3 linked regions of the Homo sapiens genome follow. The protein of the gene in region 2 interacts with the protein of the main gene of each other region in a biochemical or structural test. Each region holds a gene or a part of one and is shown on either strand. Other genes may lie near its edges.

Region 1 (7,310 bases), on a different chromosome or scaffold from region 2:
CAGACAAGTAAACAAAGTAAGAGTGTTACATAGTCCGTGCTGGGTGCGGTGGAAAGTCTGGAGTAGGGAATGGAGAGTCAGGAAAGGCTTCACAGAGGAAATGGCTCTAGCACTGAGTCTTGGTTTCAACTTAAAAAAAAAATTCCTTCAGCCAGGTGCAGTGGCTCACACCTGTAATCCCAACCCTGTGAGAGGCTGAGGTAGGCAGATCACTTGAGCTCAGGAGTTCAAGACCAGCCTGGGCAACATGGTGAGACCCGGTCTCTACAAAAAATACAAAAATTCACCAGGTGTAGTGGCACTTGCCTGTAGTCCTGGCTACTCAAGAGGCTGAGGTGGGAGAATTGCTTGAGCCCAGAAGGGGAGGTTGCAGTGAGCCGTGAACGCACCACTGCACTCCAGCCTGGGCAATAGAGCAAACCCTTGTCTCAAGGAAAAAAAAAAAAAAAATTATTTCCCCCAATCATTCTACACATTTATTGTGAACTTACCTCTTCGATTCTGTGTGAGGACTTCAAAGTCCTGGGTCTGTGGACCAAGAACTCTTCCCTTCCCATCCACAACCCAAGCCCTTCTGCCTGCCTTAGCCTACTTCAAAGACCTCCCATTTAGGGACGCAGACAGGTGGCAAAGTAGGAGTTGACAAAACAAAACAAAACATTGTTAAGAGTGTTTACCTTCAGGAAGGGGAACTGGGCTGGGATTTGAAGGGATAGGTGGGAGAATTTTGTACCATTTAAGTTTTTGTTACTGGAGTGGGGAAAAACCATGGGGAAAAATAGGAAGTGTGATGGCTGCTACCTCTACAATCTTGCATTAAATAGAGTACTAGAGTGGTGATCTCTGTTCAATTTTTTTTTTTTTTTCCTGAGATAGTTCTCGGTCTGCTGCCTAGGCTGGAGTGCAGTGGCACAATCACAGCTCACTGCAGCCTTCATCTCTCAGGCTCAAGGGATCCTCCCACTTCAGCCTCCTGAGTAGCTGGGACCACAGGCATGTGACACCATGCCCAGCTAATTTTTAAATTTTTAGTAGAGGTGAGGTCTCACTATGTTGTCCAGGCTGGTCTTGAACTCCTGGCCTCAAGTGATCCTCCTGTCTTGACCTCCCAAAGTGTTGGGATTGCAGGTGTGAACAACTACCACACCCGATTCAAAATCTTAAATAGGCAAACTTATCTGCAAATGTGCCAATTTAGGAAGCGAATAAACCAACAATTATTTAAATAAGGGCTCTTTTATCACTCACAAGGGAGTGAACGCCTAATCCACGTTAGAATACTGCAATAAACAAGGGTCCCCTACCCTCGGGGACCTTATTTTTCTAGAAGGAGATAGTAATAAACTAACAACGTACTTTGAGATAGAAATAAGCCTGCTAAGGAAATAAAGCCAGGTGTTGTGAAAGAGCAAAGAGTGAGGGAGGGGACGTGAGAACAGAGATACGGAATTCTTACATAGGAGGAGTTTAGGAGCATCAGTCTAGTTGTGGAGAGGCAACTAAAGGGCTTTAAAGTCCCATTTACTTAGAAAGCACACTATTTTCACATGCAGTTTATGTTACAGATCGATAAAAGTAGGGTTCTCTATTTTTATTTATGCTTCATAATAAATTGAGAAAATGTCAATTATATCAAATAATTATATTTGTCATCAGGAGTGGCAGGAGGGGGCCCACAGCCTGGGCAATATGGTGGCTCATGCCTGTAATTCCAGCACTTTGGGAGACGGAGACGGGCAGATTGCTTGAGCCCAGGAGTTCTAGACCAGCCTGGGCAACATGGTGAAACAGAGTCTCTACTAAAAATGCAAATATTAGCTGGGCGTGGTAGCACACATCATTAGTCCCAGCTATTTGGGAGGGTGAGGTGGGAGGATCTCTTGAGCCTGGGGAGATCGAGGCTACAGAGCCGTGATTGCACCACTGTACTCCACTTTGAGACAGGGTGGACAGAGTGAGACCCTGTCTCGAAAAATAAAAATTTAAAAAAAAGGAGTGGCAGGAGGGGAAGTGTTGGAGCAAGGGTTCTGAAAATCACTCCTTGGCTTTGGCCACTGTGGATCATTGACTAACTCTCCTTATACAAGTCTAGAATTCTTGTCCTCCAAGAGCTTAAAATTAAGTTTGCATGACCATATAAAAAACACATTTATACACCAGTTAGCAAATGTTAGGAGAAAAGACAGCTGTTGATCCTTCACTGTGTCTTCAGTTGTGTGATCTCAGGAAATTCCCGATTTGATGTGTTAAGTACTACCGTGTGTTTCAAGAAAAATTCAGCTTGAGTTTATTTAGCCTTTGAAAAGCATTAGAACAACATATATGACAAAGTGTTAATATGCATAAAGTGCTAACAATAAGAAAAATAGGCAATAGAGATAAATGTAAATTATCATTAAACCCATGACAACTGTTCAACAATATGAATCAAAACAACAAAACCACATCAACGAACATCCACTGATGTCCTGAATTCACAGAGTGTGCTCTAATCCACTGCTAGTGAGAATGTATTGTGTTTCTGGAGGGGGAGTTTGCCAGTTTATATCCTTTGACTGAGGAATTCTAACTCCAGGGAGGTATCCAAAAGAGTATTTTAAAAAGGCCAGGCGCGGTGGCTCACGCCTGTAATCCTAGCACTTTGGGAGGCCGAGGCGGGCAGATCACCTGAGGTCAGGAGTTTGAGACCAGCCTGCCAACATGGTGAAACTCCGTATTTTGCATTTTGTAAAAATACAAAAATTGGCCAGGCCTGGTATGTGCTTGTAATACCAGCTACCCGGGAGACAGGAGAATCGCTGGAACCCGAGAACCCGGGAGGTGGGGGCTGCAGTGAGCCGAGATCGCGCCACTGCACTCCAGCCTGGGGCGACAGAGCGAGACTCCGTGTCGAAAAAAACCAAACCAAACAAAAAACATGGAGAAGGAAGCATATACACCACGGGGTTGTTTACAACAGAAAACTGGAAGAGGCCGGGAGCGGTGGTTCACGTCTGTAATTCCAGCACTTTGAGAGGCCGAGGCGGGCGGATCACTTGAGATCAGGAGTTGGAGACCAGCCTGGCCAACATTGGGAAGTTCGTCTCTACTAAAAATACAAAAATTAGCCAGGTGTGGTGGCAGCCGCCTGTAATCCCAGCTACTCGGGTGGCTGAGGCATGAGAATCGCTTGAACTCTAAAGGCGGAGGTTGCAGGTTGTAGTGAGCCGAGATCGTGCCACTGCACTCCAGCCTGGGTGACAGAGCAAGACCCCGTCTCAGAAAAAAAAAAAAAAATAAATAAACAAAGAAAGAAAAAAGAAAACTGGAAGAAACGTGTAAGTGCATTAAGGGACAGATTAAATCAGTTTAACGAAGCACTAGGGAAATTTTTTAAAATTGCGTTTGAGTTTGCCGCGAGCCGGGCCAATCGGTTTTGCCAACGCATGCCCACGTGCTGGCGAACAAATGTAAACACGGAGATCGTGTGCCGGGCACTTGGTTTCGTGGTGGGCAACTGTGCTGCTGTTTCTTTTGGCCGCGGACAAGGTCGGCAGAGGTGGACCCCTGCTTGGGAGAGCTCTTCTCGCTGTGCTGACACCCGCCCCTAACAGTCACCCACCCCGGGGAAATAATGGGGCTCGGAGGCCTCCTCCCAGCCAGTGTCCAGCCTAAGCACATCGGCTCCCGCAGTTCAGAAAGGTCCCGAGGCCCGAGTCACCATTTCCGGCTCAGACCTCGACCCTGAACGTGGCTGCCCACTGCCACGCCCACTACGCCCCAGTGGCTCGCCCCAGGGGACGAGGGGCAAGAAGCGGCCTCCGAGGGCAGCGGCCGAAGGCCATTCGGTCCCTGGCTCTTCCCAGCTCGCAGAGACCCGGAGGCGCTGCCCGGCCGCCTGCCCCTCTTCAGATCCCCCAGCACCGGAGGAGCAGCGAGGGGGGTGCGTCCAGGCCGGCTTTCGGGTCGGCTTAGGCGAATCCAGCTCTCTTTTGCCCCTCCCAGAAGGCCCAGCCCCGTCCGGGCGGTGTTCGGGCGGCGCCGGGCCGGGCCCCCCGCCGCCCCAGGCTCGCTCATAGGCCCGGAACACCACAGCCCGCCCAGACTTGGCTGGCGCCGAGCCGGGGGTGGAGCCAGCGGGTTCCCGCCAAAATCGCGTAGCTGGTCCTTCCCCCGCGGGCTACGTCGCGCCCTCCTTTTTTTTTCAAACCCGGAGCTGCACTGGGATTGGTGGACTGGGCACTCACGTGGTTAACGGTCGCGGGAAGCCGCGGAGCCCGAACCTGAGACTGGACCTGAGGAGACCTCAGCCTCGGTGCTCGGGCCGCCCCGCCTCTGCCGGAAAGTCCGCGCCGCCGCTGCCGCCACCGTCCGCAGCCCGAGCGCCCCGGAGCCGCAGGCCGCCGCCGCGCAGAGACGCCGCGGCTGCGACTAGGCGCGCCCAGCCGCACGTGGCGGACCCGCCCCCAGGCCCGCAGTGTCCTGGACCCCGCAGGCCTCCGCTCTCCTGTCCTCGGCCCCGTCCCCAGGGCCGCGATGAGCTTCCTGAGCCGACAGCAGCCGCCGCCACCCCGCCGCGCCGGGGCGGCCTGCACCTTGCGGCAGAAGCTGATCTTCTCGCCCTGCAGCGACTGTGAGGAGGAGGAAGAAGAGGAGGAGGAGGAGGGCAGCGGCCACAGCACCGGGGAGGACTCGGCCTTTCAAGAGCCCGACTCGCCGCTGCCGCCCGCGCGGAGCCCCACGGAGCCCGGGCCCGAGCGCCGCCGCTCGCCCGGGCCGGCCCCCGGCAGCCCCGGCGAGCTGGAGGAGGACCTGTTGCTGCCCGGCGCCTGCCCGGGCGCGGACGAGGCGGGCGGTGGGGCGGAGGGCGACTCGTGGGAGGAGGAGGGCTTCGGCTCCTCGTCGCCGGTCAAGTCGCCGGCGGCCCCCTACTTCCTGGGTAGCTCTTTCTCGCCGGTGCGCTGCGGCGGCCCAGGAGATGCGTCGCCGCGGGGTTGCGGGGCGCGCCGGGCGGGCGAAGGCCGCCGCTCGCCGCGGCCGGACCACCCGGGCACCCCGCCACACAAGACCTTCCGCAAGCTGCGACTCTTCGACACCCCGCACACGCCCAAGGTGAGAGCGGCGGGCGCGGGCACCCGGCGGCCGGGGCCGCGGCGCCGGAGGGGCCAGCGCCGCTGCCTGGGTTCGGTTACAGAAGCGGCCGGCCGCTCCCCCCTCGCTTTCCTGCGCCGCCCCCCAAAGTTGGCAGCCCTTGTGTTTGGCCCTGCCCCGAGGTTGTCCGTTGAGATTATGTAACTGAACAATGGGCCTCGTCTGGAACTTCATCTTACAAAGGGGCCGATCGGCCCGTCCGGGTGGCCAAGGATTTGCCGCCCGTTGAGTCCGGGCCGCCCCGAGCGTGTCAGCCCCGAGTGCGGCACCGATAACGCGGTTCGCGAGGATGCTGGAGGGTGCCGGCCCGGCCACCTGACACTCCCGAGCCATAGGATGCCTTTTAAACGCGGCGATCGGGCCTGTAATTTGGGCGGCGCGGGCAGAAGGAGTTTAAAGAAAAATAATTGTCCCGCCCTGATCGTGTCGTGTCGTGTGGCGTGGATGGGGGAAAGGTCTGGGGCATGCAGGGAGACTACGCTTGGACTTGGGAGTAAAGGCTGGCCTTCCAAGCATTTACAGTCCTACAGACTCATCCTAAGTCCAGGCAGTACTGAGGCCTGTTTCTGGACAAGGTCTTGGCCCAGCATTTGTTTTTATCGTGGGTTTGCGGTGCCCAGAGTTTGGCCGGCCTCCGTGTGATTAGGAACATCCTACCGTAGATAAGGTATCTTAAAGAAGGAGGTGTTCAGCACCTGTGTTTTGAAAGGCCTTCGAGTACTGCGCAGATGACCACTTTTAAAACTGCAGATTTTAAAGCTGATACTTCCAGAGATTAAGACAAGCCTCGCATTTGTAAGGTTAACAGGGAAGATGCACCTTTTAAAGTGAGTTTGTTTTGTTTTCAATGTACTGTTTGTCATCAGCCTAGGCAATCTGTGTGCTTTCGAGCTGTACTGTTTATTGGCCGACTTGCTCAAGGCAAAATCCCTCTGGAAGTGAGGGGAGGAGTCCAGCGGAGGTGGCTATGGAAGCCCTATCTAGATGGGGGAGGGGAGATTTTATGGGGCTCTCGGACTGCTTTCTATTTTTGGATGGGTTGAAAGAATTTGTTAACTTTTAGCCACTAGAATGAACTTAGTTTTAGGCAGCATTTATATTCTTTTTAGGGTTAGAGGCAGATTTTACTTGGCTATTTTTTTCAAGAAAAGATAGTTAATATCCAGCTTCAGTCTTCCTAAATTAGCCACAATTTATTTTGCTTGAACTCTAACAAAGGCTTGTGTGTTGCTTTCACCTACGCATTCAGCCCTATGAAAGGCTCGTTGAAGGTTAGGTTGAGAAGGCTGACTATAGGACTTGGATCCTAAAAATTGTATTTGTATTTTTCTTTCCCTAGAGTTTGCTCTCCAAAGCTCGGGGAATTGATTCCAGCTCTGTTAAACTCCGGGGTAGTTCTCTCTTCATGGATACAGAAAAATCAGGAAAAAGGGAATTTGATGTGCGACAGACTCCTCAAGTGAATATTAATCCTTTTACTCCGGATTCTTTGTTGCTTCATTCCTCAGGACAGTGTCGTCGTAGAAAGAGAACGTATTGGAATGAGTAAGTCGTTTATTTAACAGTTTGGTTCTCCAAATAACCTAAGATTGGTTTGGTATACTTATCAAAATTTAGTTCCTATTTAATGGCATGGATGTATCTGTCAGATATATTGATAGAAAAATAACATTTTTTTTAGTTCCTGTGGTGAAGACATGGAAGCCAGTGATTATGAGCTTGAAGATGAAACAAGACCTGCTAAGGTAAATAGCTTTTTATTTTTATTTTTTTGAAATTTACTTTTCTGCCACTTAAAGCATGCTATGAATATGTTAATAAGCATTAACACATAAGGTAGAATGGTTTTTAAATTTCACACATAGCCCTATCACCATAGCAAGAAATAACTGTTTTCGTATATTTGTATTACATATATGGAAACACTTTTTATTACAGAGAATTACAATTACTGAAAGCAATATGAAGTCCCGGTATACAACAGAATTTCATGAGCTAGAGAAAATCGGCTCTGGAGAATTTGGTTCTGTATTTAAGTGTGTGAAGAGGCTGGATGGATGCATTTATGCCATTAAGCGATCAAAAAAGCCATTGGCGGGCTCTGTTGATGAGTATGTATTAAACATTTTGTCTTTTGCTCTTTTGTCCCCTATGGTGTTACTAACATTAAGGTTTCAGCT
Region 2 (7,102 bases):
TGCTGTGTGCACGATAGAGTGCACTTATACAAACCTAGATGGTAGAGCCTGCTACACACCTGAGCTAAATGGTATAACCTATTGCTTCTAGGCTGCAAACCTGTACAGCATGTTACTCTACTGAATATTGCAGGCAACTATAACACAGTGGTAAGTATGTGTGTCTAAACATACCTAAACATAGAAAATAGACAGTAAAAATATGGTATAAAAGACTTAAAAATTGTACACCTGTAAAGGGCACTTACCATGGATAGAGCTTGCAGGAAGGGAAGTTACTCTGGGTGAGTCAGTGGGTGAGTGGTGAGTGAACATGAAGGCCTAGGACATTACTGAACACTACTGTAGACTTTATAAATGCTGTACACTTAGGTTATACTAAATCTATATTAAAAATTTTTCTTTCATGAATAATCAATTAACCTTAGCTTACTGTAACATTTTTATTTTATAAACTTAATTGTTTTAACTTTTGACTCTTTTGTAATAATACTTAGTTTACTATTTTTTAATGTTTTTATCAACTCCCAATCACTTGAAATTAACACTTAAAATAAGCATTGTATGTGTAACTGTACCAAGTATTTTCTTCCTTTACATCCTTATCCTATTTTTTTTATTTTAAATATCTTTAGTATTTACTTTCTAAATTTTTTGTTTAAAATGAAGACACAAACACACACATTAGCCTGGGCCTACACCAGGTCAGGATAATCAATATCACTGTCTTCCACCTCCACATCTTGTCCCACTGGAAGGTCTTCAGGAGCAGTAACACATGGAGCTGTCATTTCTTATAACAACAATGCCTTCTTCTGGAATACCTCCTGAAGGACCTGCCTGAGGCTTACAGTTAACTTTTGTTTTAATAAGGAGAAGGTGTATACTCTAAAATAACGATATAAAGTACAGTATAGTATATACATAGGCCAGTAACAGGTATTTATTATCAAATATTATGCACTGTACATAATTGTATTGCTAGATTTTTATATGGCTGCAGCACAGTAGGTCTGTTTACACCAGCATCACCACAACACATGAGTACTGCAGTTATAACCCTACGAGGGCTACGACGTCACTAGGCAATAGGAATTTTTCAGCTCCATTATAGTCTTATGGGACCACCATTGTATACATGGTCTGTTATTGACCAAAACATCATTAGGCAGCACATGACTGTATGATTATCTATATATCTCTAGCACTTTTTCTGAAAATGGAAAGATCTGCATTCTGATCCAAAAGAAGAGGCTGATCCACAATCGGTATGTGAAAATGCTGACTGAACTCAATGCCTGCTGGAAAGTATATGATTTATAAATATAGTTAGGAAAATGTAAATATATTATCTTTTTACATCTAATCCTTAGTTACATGGATTTAAGTTTTTATGATACCTATACACCCAATTTTTATAGTGGGATCATGGGATCAGAATCAGATTAAGGGGTAGATGGGCTGGCAATTTCCTGGGACCCTAATCTGTAAAAGAATCTAAACTAATGCCAAGGCCAAGCATGGTGGCTCATGCCTGTAAAATAGGACAGGGAACATCAGATATGCCAGGCTCCTCTTAGGGAATGGGTTGAGAGTGGACAGAGAGGGTAAAAGTTTTAAAAGAGGTCTCAGGTAGGGACAGGAGTGGTAATGAATCTAATGCAACCACACATGAACACACACACACACACACACACACACACACACACACACACACTGCATTCTCATGTTAGAAAACATCCTCATCCTCATGGTTTCTTTTTTTTTTTTTTTTTTTTTTTTTTTGAGAGTGGCTCTGTCACCCAGCTGGAGTGCCGTGGCACGATCTTGGCTCACTGCAGCTTCCACCTCCCAGGTTCTAAGGGATTCTCCTGCCTTATGGTAGCTGGGATTACAGGTGCGTGCCACCACGCCCAGCTAATTTTGTATTTTTTGTAGAGACGGGGTTTCACCATGTTGGCCAGGCTGGTCTCGAACTCCTGACCTCAGGTGATCCACCAGCCTTGGCCTCCCAAAGTCCTGGGATTATAGGCATGAGCCACTGAGCCTGGCCCATCCTCATGGTTTCTAAACTGTCAACTAAAGAAAGTAGATATCATTAAGAATGAACCATGGGGCTCCTGTTTTGCTGAGTGGGCCATACGCAGCACACTGCCACCAGCACCTTTCCTCCTCCCCTCTTCTCTACAGAAGCAGGCACTCCCTAGATGATGGCTGAGGAAATGTTTCAAGAATAGCAAGTGTGAAGCGACACCAGGCCAGAGCCTTCCAAGACACCCAGGGCTTGTTCATGCCCTGAGTACGATCAGTGTTGCAACACTGTATGTATATGTACCATGCTTCATATTTCCTTAATACATAGGATTGATTTCTCCTTCCTATTTGTCCTTGTTCCTCTCAAATCGAAACTCACATTCCTATAGATCTCAATACCCCTAGAGGCAATCAAAACAGGTTATTAAAGTAATTCATAATAGGAGTTTACCAACAGAGTTTACCTTACCAGGTATTGTTGATTGTTAAAGAGAGCTTGGTAACCTAAATAGAGATCTCATTGGTAAGATGTGTTTGGAGGTCTTCCCACCTTTCTCTAGAAGAGTGCTGGCTACTTTTAAACACCTTCCTGATACTCTGCTTGCTCCCCACCTTGCATCCCAGGTACCTACCTATAAGCCCTTCTTAGAAATATCTTCCACTTGCCACTTATTTTATTCTGGGTCAGTTCCTTGCAGGAGGTGAAATATTCAAGGGCCTAATGCTTAGTTCTAGGAAGATACTGTTCACTCAGCACCTTCCACGTTTCAATACTCCAAAATTAATTCACTGATATATGATGCGGAAAAAGCCATAATTCCCCAAACCAGCGCACCCCCAGCAAATGCTATCCACTGTATGAATCAGCTCCTGGCTTAGCACCAGATATTCAGAGTGATTGGAAACATAACTGAAAAGTAACTGAAGTCAACAATGCCCATAATCAAAAGAATGAAAGCTATTTCCCTTTTAAGAGAAACTACTTAAAAAGGAGTTGGGGGTAAGAAGAAAAAGAAGGAAGGAAGAAAACCCAGTTGTGACTTGGCGTTTACTTGAAGAGGAGCTAGCAGAATGTAGTGCATAGACAGTTTCACAGCACAGAGGGAAGGCATCGCTCAGAAGGCTTCCTTGGCACTATTAAATTTCTTTGGTGGCAGCCTCGGCTGGGAAGGCAAGGCACAGAAGTTGCATTCAGGGTTCTGAGGACCAGGAGGTGGTGTCTGCGCACTTACAGGGATAGAACGGCTCAGGAATCTCGCTGAAGAAGAAGAAAGCCCGGTGTAGGAGGGTCGGAGGATGGTGGTGTGCTCCTCTGTCTTGGCGCTGTGGGGGCCTGGGGGGCTGTTCAGGTTGCCCCCGTTGCTGTTGCTGCTTCTGTTGTACTGATTATTGTTGAGCTCAGGGTAATTTCTGGTAGTTGGCTGGGAGCTGCCATTCAAGAGGTTGGTAAACGGGCTGGCTGTGAAGCCTGCCTTAGAGGATGAGGAGGTCTTTTTGTTCTCTGGATCATCTGTTGCAGCATTCAAGTTCCCTAGAGAACTGGCTAGCCGGGAGTTTATGGAAAAGCTGAATGGAAAACACAAGTGAGGAGGGAAAAAACAGACAACAATGTACAATCACACAGAGCTCACGTTTCTAAAACACATACTCATGACATTAGGGGAACATGATGAAGATGAATCTGATCAATGTGAATGATGTCAGGATGGCTTCCTCATCACCCTTGGTGTTATGATAATATGTAGCCTTGAGTTATACATATCAAGTTGCTTTGTCAAAAGCAGTTAACTAGGACCCAAGAAACTGGCTAAAACACTTTGACTACAGATCTTGAAATAGAACATCACAGAGTTTTATTTACCCTGGGGTGGGAAGTAAAGGAAAAGGGCCATGTAAGGGGAGCATTAAAAGCAGACTTAAGTACATATTCAATCACATGACTACATCAAACATCCCTACCCATTTTGGTTAGTTCTCCCTTGCCTATACGTGTCAGCTGAGAAATGACAATATCATTTGTATATACAACTGAACTCCATTTTCTGGATCACACTAAGCCAGCTGCTCACTCTCTAGAAGAAGAGCACGCTTTGCACCATTCCCTCCACAACCTTGTCTCCTGCCTTCCCAAGACAGGAACGGAAGCCCCAGAACATCACAGGGTCTTCCGTGGTTTCTCCTCTTCTCCCTTGTCCCCTCCTCTGACAAAACTGCAGCTAAACTCATCGCCTGCTGCAAGCTTCCTTTACCTCAAACCAGCACCTTAGAAGAGGGAGAGAAAAATTACCTTCTTACAGTGGCACCCGAAGACAAAGAAGTTCTGTTGATCCTCTTGGCCGTTGCTGAAGGGGACAGTGCCATTTTTGATGTCTTCAAAGTAACTGCAGATCCTTGCAGGGATGAACTTAATCTTTGCGGAGAAAAATGGCAAAGTGTCACAATAAAGTAGTCTTATCTTAAACATTCAGCAACTAACTAGGACAAGATAAATTAATCAATCTTAAAGATATCATGACAGGTCCTAATAGTGATGACAGCAGCGGCAGCCACCACTGACACAGCACTAACTCTGCCAGGCACTGTTCTAAGAACCTTAAAGATGTCAGCTCAGCTTGTCCTTACAACAACCCTAAGAAGTAGCTAATATTGCTGTCCTTACTTTACAAGTGAGGAAACAAAAACACAGAGGAAAAGTTCCTCATCCAGTCACTCAGTTAGTGAACAGCAGACCTGGGATTCAAACCCAGGAGTCAAAGTCCTGCTCTTAGCCATGATCCTGTCTTCCTGGGCCACTGCCCTTCTTTGCCACTGGTATTCATTCCTCAGCACAACCTTAGATTCCACTTCTTATATGTCAAATCCATCCTCTTCTTTTCACCCTGCAAACTACCCTAGGCGAGGCCATCTTTATTTCTTATCCTTGACTACAAGTGGCATCTTTTAATCTTATTCCTAAACAATTCAAATTGTGAATAGCCTTCAGTGAATCATGTCACTTCACTGTTTAAATCATTTCATCTTTCCTCTGTGCCCACAAGCCTATAGAAACTCTTTGGCTTGGCATATGCAGCCCCTCCAAAATCTGGACAGGTCCTTCTTTCCACACTTTCCCATTGGACATCTCTATTCCAGCTACATAAGAATGCCTTGAGTTCCCTGAATGGGTAGCGTCCACACGTTTGTCCAGTTTGCACAGACTATTTCCCTGCCATGGCATTTTCTCATCTCCTTCCCATCCTCTACCTCTTATCTTCCATGTCCATTTGACCCACTTCTATCACACTTAGCCTTTAATGGTCCAATCAGCTGTTACCTCATCAAGCAAGCCTTCTCTGAGTTCCCAAGCAATATATGTTTCATCATATATTCTCATAGTAAATCATAGCTCTTATACCATATTGCGTCATCTGATATTTGTCTATCTCCGTTACCTGATGTAAGCTCCTTGAGGGCAAAGACTTCTCTCTCATTTCAATTCCCAGTGGCTAGCACAATGCTGGATTCTGAGCAGGTGCTCAATAAATATTTGCCAAGTGGACAAAAAGGAAAAACTGACTCAAATCTGGAGAGCCAGGGCCCAGTCATAATCTTAATACCAAATCTGTTTGATCCTAGATAAATCATTTAATATAGCTGAACTCTGTTTTCCTCTCTGCTAGAGAAAAGCTTATTTACTTGTAGACTCTTTCCTTCATTATCCACCCACCAAACAGCAGCTTAAGCTCATGTTTTGCCTCCAAAATAAAAATGGAAAAAGTTCTACAAAGAAGCAATTCAAGCTTCTCCAGAAGCTCCAGATGCTTAAGCCCTCTTTGAACTGCCCTCACTAAACAGTCCTAAACCTAAGAATGAATAAGAACCAGCAGGTGAAGAGCTTCTTTCCCCTATTTCATCAACACTCTTGGCCAAACATCTCTGCTGCTCTCACTGAGTGCCACACCAGATCGTGGTACCACTCCCGGAGGTTTCAGGGGACATTTTTCCACAGAACAAAACTAGTGTTTCCTCTTGAAAAGGAAGGTAGAGAAGAAAATAAGACTAGAAAATAAAGGAGGGGAACAAATGCATGCTGATTGGGAAAAAATAGAAAGAGGACCAATAAAAATGAAAACAATTTAAGCTAGATCTATCACTAGATCAAAAGGAGAAATGCAGAGCACCTGTAGTTTCTTAGAGACCCCCCTCCACAATGTGCTAAGAGCACAAAATACATTGATGTCTCTACCACCACCACACAGTCCTGTGGGCATGCCAGCAAAAAAAAAAAAAAATCCTTTTCATGGTGAGCATTAAAAATAAGGCATAAACAATATGGAAGAGAAAGGAAGCAATTTAAAAAGCAAAAAGCTGTGTACAGTTGATTTTCGTGTTTGAGGCTTGGGAAACATGGCTAAAAGGAAGCATATATTTACAAGCTACTAGACATTCAACCTCATTGGCAGTACCTGAAAGGCTGGGACACTGCTCTTGGATGTCCTTTTGTATCATCTGACCTGCGGAAATCAAAGACAGATGCTCACATATCACCAGGGCACACGTTTTCACAAAGACCACAAGGCACATCAAATGGTATCAAACCAGTAAAAATATTAAATTAGCAAAAGGGAGAAACCTTGCAAATGGATATTAGATTACCCAGAACCAGGCTTGCTATCCCCTTTTCTCATAATACTGCAGAAAATGATAACCTCATCTTTGAGCAATATGAACCTTTATTCCTTAGATCAGGAACTCAGTAAAGACCCAATCTGACTACAGTGTTATAGTTTCTCCCAGATTACACATGAAAACTAAATTCCCTGTGAATCTGTTTGGTGTTTACCATACCGGCAAAACATCCTTCTGCTATGTGTATCTCTTATTTATAAGTCAAAAAAATGTTGCTGCTTACCATTATATTAATTTGTGGACTGGGGCCTTGCCACCCAGTATATTGTAATTTTAAAAAATGATGATATTTACAAACGTTTGCACCTTTTGATTCCCCTTTTTTTAAACCCAATCTGAGCTATCAGCAGGTTTCAAATGTGATCAGAAGTCAAGTCCCATCATTGATTCTGGTGAGTAG
Region 3 (7,985 bases), on a different chromosome or scaffold from region 2:
GCTCCTCTCCACGGCCCGGTCCAGCGGGGAGTCCGAAACGCCACGTTGCGTTATCTCAGTTCCCAGCATTCACTACCCCTGGCAGGACCCCGGGCGCCGAGTCAACTCAGCGGAGTCTCCGGCCGGGCTATAAGGACCCGGGAACGGCAGGAAAACACGCGAGGCGCCGCTTTCGCGACCGCCCCAAACCCATCTTTTCTTCGGGAACTGCCCGCAAGACTTGGGGCTGGGGAGTGGAGCTGCTTCTCCGCACTCCCACTGCCCTCCGGAGCCCAGCACGTAGCCGGGCAGGAAAGGTGAAGCGTCTACAAGGCCTCAATTTCGAAACCGGACTCGGAAAATCCCGATTTCCTGTCCCAATAAGATGCCTTTATTGTGGCCGCGTCCGCTCTCGCCTCGGACGGCGGGGACTCTGGGGGCCCCTTACTGGGCCTGCTCTATACGCAGCCCCGCCCTGGATTTGAGTTTCTTGTTTTACATCTGGGAATTAGTCTCTCCAGGAGTCCTGGCGGGAGGGAGTGGGGGGAGAGAGGAAGTTGAGGACCTAAGGCCATTGAAGGTGAAGATGCGAGGAGGGGCGCCCTTAGGCCGACCCGCTGCCTCCCACCCGGACTCAGAATGTGTGCCCCAGGACAGAGGAAGCGGCACTGTAAAAGTGGCACATTTAGCTGGGTTTGAGTTTCTGACACGGATTAAAACCAAGGGCGGAGACTTACACTCCGGGTCTGCAGCGCACTCCCGGAGCCTGCTCATTCATTCCTCCACCCACCTGCGGCCTTGCCGGACCCTGGGAATCTTAAAAATGCTGTCCCACAGTCCCTGCCGTCTCTGGAACTGCAGCAGGTGCTCAGCCCCAGGATGGCTCCAGGCGCACTGACCTCATCCTCCATGAAACCACAGGGACCCACGCCTCTTGTAAATCTACTCATCTGTAAAATGGGAATAATGGAACCTCCCTCATAGAGTTGTGAAAGTAAATTAAAGAATATAGGCCGGGCGCTGTGGCTCACGCGTGTAATCCCAGCACTTTGGGAGGCCGAGGCGGGTGGATCAGGAGGTCAGCATATCAAGACTATCCTGGCTAACAAGGTGAAACCCCGTCTCTACTAAAAATACAAAAAATTAGCAGGGCGTGGTGGCATGCGCCCGTGGTCCCAGCTACTCGGGAGGCTGAGGCGGGAGAGTCGCTTGAACCCGGGAGGCAGAGGTTGCAGTGAGCCGAGATCGCACCACTGCACTCCAGCCTGGAGGAAAGAGCGAGACTCCGTCTCAAAAAAAACAATAAAATAAAATAAAATAATAAGAATATAGAGGCCGGGCGGATGCGGTGACTCACGCCTGTAATCCCAGCACTTTGGGAGGCCAAGGTGGGTGGATTATTTGAGGTCAGGAGTTCGAGACCAGCCTGGCCAACATAGCGAAACCCCGTCTCTACTAAAAATACAAAAATTAGCTGGGCGGTAGTGGCGCGCGCCTGTAATCCCATCTACTCGGGAGGCTGAGGCAGGAGAATCCCTTGAGCCTGGGAGGCGGAGGTTGCCGGTAAGCCGAGATCACGCCACTGTACTACAGCTTGGGCGACAGAGTGAGACCCTGTCTCACAAATATATATATATATATATATATATATATATATATAGAGAGAGAGAGAGAGAGAGAGAGAGAGAGAGAGAGAGAGCACTTAGCAGTTCCTGACACATAGTAAGTGCTCAATAAGTGTTATAAAAAAGAACTGCCGGACGCGGTGGCTCAGTAATCCCAGCACTTTAGAAAGCTGAGGGGGGCGGAGGCGGGCGGATCACTTCAGCTCAGGAGTTCAAGACCAGCCTGGCCAACATGGTGAAACCCTGTCAATAAAAAATTTAAAAAAAAAAAAAAAAAAAAAAAAAGCCAGTGGGGTGGCGCGCGCCTGTAGTCCCAGCTACTCAGAGTGGGTGAGGGGGTAGGGCTGCGGTGGGAGGATCGCTTGAGCCCGGCAGGCAATTGCAGTGAGCTCTGATCGCGCCACTGCACTCCAGCTTGGCCAAGAGACCGAAACCCTGTATTAAAAAAAAAAAAAAAAACCGCAGTGATGGCTTTCACTTTTTGCAGACGCACGTGCCACGTTTTACCTGCAGAAGCTCAACTAACCCGTCAAACAGCCTGGTCGGGGAGGTATTTCTACCCTTCTTGTCACTGATGAAGAAACTGAGACCTAGAGAGGGGGCCTAGCTTGCTCAGGCCGCTTCAACTAGAAAAAGGCCAAGCTGAATTCGCATTCAGGGCACTCTCCTCTTGCACAGTAAGGGGGCCGAGACTGGGGCCGAGCCGCGCAAGGGCGACTCCACGTTCCCTTGGTGGCCTGGAGGACTGAATTCTCGACCAGGCGACCAAAAATAACAACCAGCAGGAGCCGAGACCCGAGAGTCAGACCCCACCCAACCCAGCCAGAAATGAGGGAGAACTGGAGGGGGTCGCGCGGGGGCGGGGCCAAAGCCCCACGTGCGCCGCCTGCAGCCGCTTCAAGAAGCCCTTTGTCGCGAGCAGCCGCGTTCGTGCCGCACTCGGAGGCTTAAAATAAAGACAATGTTCCCAGCCTCCCTGCGGCTAAATCGGGCGCGAGTGCGGGGGTGGTGAGCGAGCCGGGCGGGAGCGCTTCTCCAGGCCGTACCTCTCTTCTCCCCTCCTGCCTCAGTTTCCCCATCTGATAAGGGTGAGCTAGCCAAGTCTGGGCGGGGACGTCAGAAGAGTGATACAGTGGTGGGGGTGGCGGGGGGCGTCATCCCCCTGCGTCCGCGACTGCACAGACTTCAGAAGAAAGCCGCGTGGGACAGAGGGGGGCACTCAGGAGGAGGCAGGGGAAAGCTGGACACCCTCCCCACCCGCCCACAAAATAAGTGTTTTTATTTCTAAAGGGACGTGTGCAGAGGCGGTGGGAGAAGAGAAAAGGGAGACCAAGGAGACTGGGGGGAGGTGGCAAAGAGGGAGCCTGATTCAGATTCGGAAATGGATGTTGAGCGTGGAGGCCTAACACCCCCACACTCAGCCACGTGTACGCGCACAAGTACACGCAGCCCCACCGCGCCGCCCAAGCCGCAGCCGCAAACCCAGGGCAGCCCAGCAGGGGGCATCCCGAGTCCGCGCCCAAGGGTAGGGACTGGTCAAGTTCTGACCCAACCCTGACCGGCTGGGTGACCCTGGGATGGAAAGGGGATGCTCACTTAGATTTCTCTCCAAGCTGCAGCGTCTGCTTGACTTCAGCAGGGAGGAGGACTGGGTGCCTGCTGGAACCCCAGCTGGCTTTGAGAAGCACAGATGCCCCCACATGTACCTGCCACGTGTGCCCACCAGTAGCTGCTGACCAAACCCCAGGAACTCCAGTTTCAGCTCCACTTGGCTCCATTGGCCAACTGGGCTCCTGGGTGAGAAAGCCCCAGGTTACCCTCAGGCACCAGCATTGGCGGGGTTGTGGGGGCGGGGGGCGGCGCTTGGTGGGGAAATGAGTAGGGGAAACCCCTGCCCCAGACTCCAGAGCCCTGGGCTTAGAGCCAAGTGACCTGAGCCCAAACACCTGCCCACCACATGCTAATCATACCTCTGCTCTTCAGATTTCTCACCTACAAAATGGGGATAATTGATGCTCCCATTCCTTCCCACCTCTCACCCCAAGACTTCGACACAGCCCAGTGGGCAAAGAACACAGCAGCCCCAGAAGGCAGTCCCTGCAGCCTCCAACTCTCCTCCCCAGTCAGCTCCCGGGGAGGTCTCTAGGGCCAAACAGAGGCGGTGCAGGACCCACATCTCTAGGGCAAACGGCCCCCCAGGGGTTCTATCTCTGAGGAAGCTCAACACAGAAGTCCAGACCAGCCTGGCAGGGAGGGATGCTGGCCTCACCCAGTAGGGCTGAGGGAGATTGGGAGGAGGGCTCATCTCCTCCCAGGTACACACCTGTGAGCCCTGAGTGGGAGTCAGGGGAGACAGAGCTTGACAAGCTGGGAGGAGAGCTGTCTGTCTGCCTGTCTGTCTTCCAAGTGGAAGCTTGGGGTGGAGCAGGCAGGTAGAGGCTGCCTCACTTGTCAGAATTAGCAAGTTCCACAGTTGGGCAACACTCAGCCACACATCAGATACAGACACACGTGTGCACACGCGTCCTGCCTCCAGACTGATAGGGTCACACCTGCACTTACACAGGCTGCATGGTGACATGAGTACACAGGGACACACATATGCAAGGCACTCAGCCGCACATGGGGCAGGCACCTGGCCCTCTACTCATCCCCGAAAAGCAGACACCCATATACCCTCACAACAGGCTATGCATAGCCCAATGCTAGCGCACACAGCCCAGCATGCGGGCACGTTCACTCAGCCCCCGGGCGGGTGCGCCAGCCCTCTGGGTCTGTTCCAAGTTGGAGCCTCTCACGTGAGGCCCAATGTGTCATTTCCAAACAGAAGGAATCTAGCTCTCTCACAGCAGGGAGGAAGAGCAGGGTGTGTAGTTGGGTGGGTGGGTGCGTGGGCATGTGCAGGGGGGAGGGCGTGTGTGCGAGGGAAGCAGGCATGTGAATACCAGGGCATGTGTGTTGGGGCATGGTGCACAGGGGCTGGGGGCTCTAAGGTTGGGTGGGGGGAGGAGCCCAAGGAAACAGTGTGCCTTTGTGAGGGTGTGTGTGCCGCCGGGTCTGTGCAGTGGGTGTGGGTGTTTGTCTCCCTGTATCCGCCTTCTCTCCCGTCCGGGACTTTTAGCCTTCCTGGGCTCGCCTTCCTCATGTCCTTTCTCCTCCCTCTTGGGGCTCAAATTGGGTGCCCTGGTGAAGGAGGGGGGCACACTCCAGAACCTAGTCCAACCCCAGACGCTGCCTGAGGCTTCCCTCCAGCTCCCCTCCCTTCCTTTTCTCCCTTTCCTCCCTCCCTCTCTTTCCCTTTCTCCCTCCCCGCTAAGGCTGGCGTGCCAGGGGGTGGGACATGCCAATCACTGGCTGTGCCTCTCCCGCTGCCAGCACAGGGCGCAGCTCCCCCTGGGAGCCAGGTGTTTGGGTCCCTGGAGACGCCGCAGGCCCCCAGGGAGGCAGTGGGGCTGAGGACCCTACAGACCCCTCTTCAGCCCCGTGGTGAGTACATTTGGGAGGGCTTGGGAGGGGCTGCACTAAGGTAGAGGGTAGGAGGGTCCTGGGGAGCGGGGGAGGGCAGGGATCAGGATGAGATGGAAATAGGGATGGACTCACAGAGATAGGAGGAGGCCAGGGAGGGGTCTAGAGGGCAAGGGGGCTCTGTAGCATTGAACACTGACTGCTCCAAACACTCGGCCTCCTGGCTTTGAGTGGATATAGCTGATGTTTTTCTGGGCTTCTGCTGGCAGAGGAGATGGAGATCCCCCTCAGGAAACTGGACCTGAGGCCCAGAAGGGATTAGGCTGCCTGGTAGCAAGCAGAACCCCCAACACCCTAGGGGCAGAGTGGGAAGGGCAAAGGGCCAGGAAGCAGCCCTTGCCACCAGCATCCTGTGGGAGGTTGACCCCCATCTTGATGGGGGTGCCAGTCCCAGAACCTCCTGTCCTCCCTCAGGGCACCCTGAAACCCACCACCCCCGTCCACCTCAGCTCCCCCAAGATGGACTGAATCAGGCTGCTGGCCAGATAGAGAAGCTAGAAGCCAAGGTGGGTGTCAGGCCAGAAGCCAGCAGGAGACCAGGCAAAGAGCCCCAGGGCTCTTTGGGGACAAATGGGCATGTGGGTGGCCACACTAGCCAGGGAAGGTGGCCCTGACGTGCGCAGGGGCCCAGAGGACCCTCCTTATGTTTCTAGTATCTTGGGCTCCCGCAGGGTGGGTCTCAGTCCTATATCCAGGCAATGCATGGATACCAATGGGCACCCACGCCAGGTACTCACCCCAGTGCCCGCAGACTGCACAACATGGGGATGGGCTAGGGGCCAGGAACTCTGATGCTTGTAGAGTTGTCAGCTCCTGGGCAGGCCAGCTGGGGAGGGGGTCGTCAGCTCTCATTAGGTCATCCAGACATGTGCAGCTTAGAGGTTATCAGAGCCAATGGAGAGGGGTTCACATCTTTGCACAAAACACACCTGCAGCTCCACCCAGACTGACCCAAGACCCCTGCCCAACTGGCTGGAAGGAGTCAGGCAGTCTCCAGTAGCCAGACAGTCTCCTTTCTCAGGGTAATCAGCTGTTCAGTGGGCTGTCAGATGAGAGTTCTCTGCCCTCTGACCTCAGCCACCAGGCAAGCTGCAGTCGCTATCGCGGCTGAGATATGAAAGGGAAGGAGATAGTGAAATGGGCTGCAGAAGATGTGGGTCTTGGCTCGCAGCTGACAGCTGGCGGTTGGAGTTCTGAGAACTGGATTCTGAAGTGTAATGGGGAGTCCAAAGTGTCAAGAAGGGGCTAACCAGAGGTCATGTCAGACCTAGAAAGGAGGCTTTCTATTGTATGGAGGGACTGAGGCTGAGAAAGGGAAAGGGACATGCTCATGGTCGGAGAAGGGATATGTAGGGATCCAGCTGGGGCTCGGACCCCTTCTCCGCATCCTCAGCACAACACTGCGCTGCCGCCTCCATGAGCAGGAAGATGGGGTGGGAGAGCAGGGGGCGCAGTAAGCTCTGAGACGCAGAAGCTTGGGCTCCCAGCAGGCGGGGAGAGGTGGGTGAATTGCGCTGGGTTTCTGCTCTGCTGTGGTGCCATGGTGATGCCTACAAGGATGGAGGAGGGAGGGAGAGAGAAGAAAGGAAATGAGGAGGAGAGTGCAAGGAGCCAGGAGCAGGGGGCTTGCGGAGAGGAGGATGAGGGACCCAGAACCTCTGATGCCACACTGGCAGAGTGAGGTCTAGGGTCCAGCTGCTCATGCCCAGGCTCTGTCATGGTCTGGCCAAAGTCAGGCAACTGCTTAAGATCCATCATGGGTGAGCAAATTTGGCAGTGATTCTAGGGCTGATGCTTCTCTTCCAGCTAAGCAGTGTGTTTCATGTAGCATTTAACTGATGGCTGCTGCCCTCCACAAGACTAGTTGGCCCTCCCAATGGCAACTGTTGAGCCTTAAAAATGTGATAAATTCTGTTTACTCCCTCATTCTCAAAGCCAGACATCAGGGGTGGAAGTTTTGTGCACCTTAATGGGTCAAGAGCTGCTGTCAAAGAAAAGTTAACCCCGAGGGGAGAGCTGCCTCGTATGGGCTGGCTTCTGGGGTCAGGCCCTAGCAGAAGGGATCAGTGAGTAGACCTGGCCAGAAGGAGCGCCCTCCTCATTGCATATGTGAGGCCTCAGGTGCCCAACCCCACAGCCCCCTCCACATACCTCCCACTCCCCAATGTTATCCCCTCTTCCTAACCAGGACTCTACCAGCTTCCAGGCCCAGAATCACAAGATGGCTCCGCTCCTCCCTCCTAAATATCTTCCCCAGCATCCCCTCATTCCCTCCCTCCCCTTCTGTACTCTTTGGCCAGCGGTACGTTCAGAAAAGCCTGGTGTTCAGGAATCCCTCTCCCCATTTCCCTTTCCCTGCCTCCCCCAGTGGTTCTCTCCACTCCCAGTTGCTCTCACAAGCCAGATCCCCAGCCCCTAGGGATTGGTCCTGGGCGCTGGGAGTCAACAGTCTGGCCTGCTGTAATAAAGGCTCTGACCTCATCCCTTAACCCTTTGAGCCCAGGCTAACATTCTCCTCTCCCCAGTGACAAATGCTTTGGCACGTCCATGTCTGTCCTGGCACCTCACTTAGCTTCCCTGCAGCCGGGTGAGGCAGGGTTTCCTTGGTCCACTTTACAGACAAGGATGCTCTTGGCTGTTTTTCTCCTATGCTCTCCAGCCAGGCAGGGCCTCACTCAGGGAAGCAGGGACCTGGCAGATGAGATGTGGGAGCTCAAGGGAGAAGAGGGGCCTCTGGACCATGCTCTGGACCTGGTCCTGACCCCCACAGGTTCACCCTCAGGCTCCAGGGTCTGAAGTTGAGTACACACACGTACATTTATTCCACAGGTATTTATTGAGCAACTACTATCTGCC

What was found.
Region 1: of the proteins of CDC14A (region 2) and WEE1, one has a biochemical effect on the other in vitro, tested with the Homo sapiens proteins (one study listed by BioGRID).
Region 3: of the proteins of CDC14A (region 2) and CHRM1, one has a biochemical effect on the other in vitro, tested with the Homo sapiens proteins (one study listed by BioGRID).

What each region holds. Positions count from the first base shown.
Region 1 is NC_000011.10:9,569,419-9,576,728, forward strand, and holds the start of WEE1 (wee1-like protein kinase), read left to right. Parts: upstream 1-4,251; 5' UTR 4,252-4,515; coding exon 4,516-5,091; intron 5,092-5,268; exon of another isoform or gene 5,269-5,957; intron 5,958-6,074; exon of another isoform or gene 6,075-6,091; intron 6,092-6,469; coding exon 6,470-6,675; intron 6,676-6,811; coding exon 6,812-6,875; intron 6,876-7,068; coding exon 7,069-7,241; intron 7,242-7,310. UniProt on the Homo sapiens protein: Acts as a negative regulator of entry into mitosis (G2 to M transition) by protecting the nucleus from cytoplasmically activated cyclin B1-complexed CDK1 before the onset of mitosis by mediating phosphorylation of CDK1 on 'Tyr-15'.
Region 2 is NC_000001.11:100,495,427-100,502,528, reverse strand, and holds part of CDC14A (dual specificity protein phosphatase CDC14A), read right to left. Parts: intron 6,528-7,102; coding exon 6,480-6,527; intron 4,445-6,479; coding exon 4,322-4,444; intron 3,601-4,321; coding exon 3,267-3,600; coding exon of another isoform or gene 3,150-3,266; exon of another isoform or gene 3,069-3,149; intron 1-3,068. UniProt on the Homo sapiens protein: Dual-specificity phosphatase. Required for centrosome separation and productive cytokinesis during cell division. Dephosphorylates SIRT2 around early anaphase.
Region 3 is NC_000011.10:62,918,323-62,926,307, reverse strand, and holds the start of CHRM1 (muscarinic acetylcholine receptor M1), read left to right. Parts: upstream 1-4,944; 5' UTR 4,945-5,090; intron 5,091-5,866; exon of another isoform or gene 5,867-6,148; intron 6,149-7,946; exon of another isoform or gene 7,947-7,985. UniProt on the Homo sapiens protein: The muscarinic acetylcholine receptor mediates various cellular responses, including inhibition of adenylate cyclase, breakdown of phosphoinositides and modulation of potassium channels through the action of G proteins.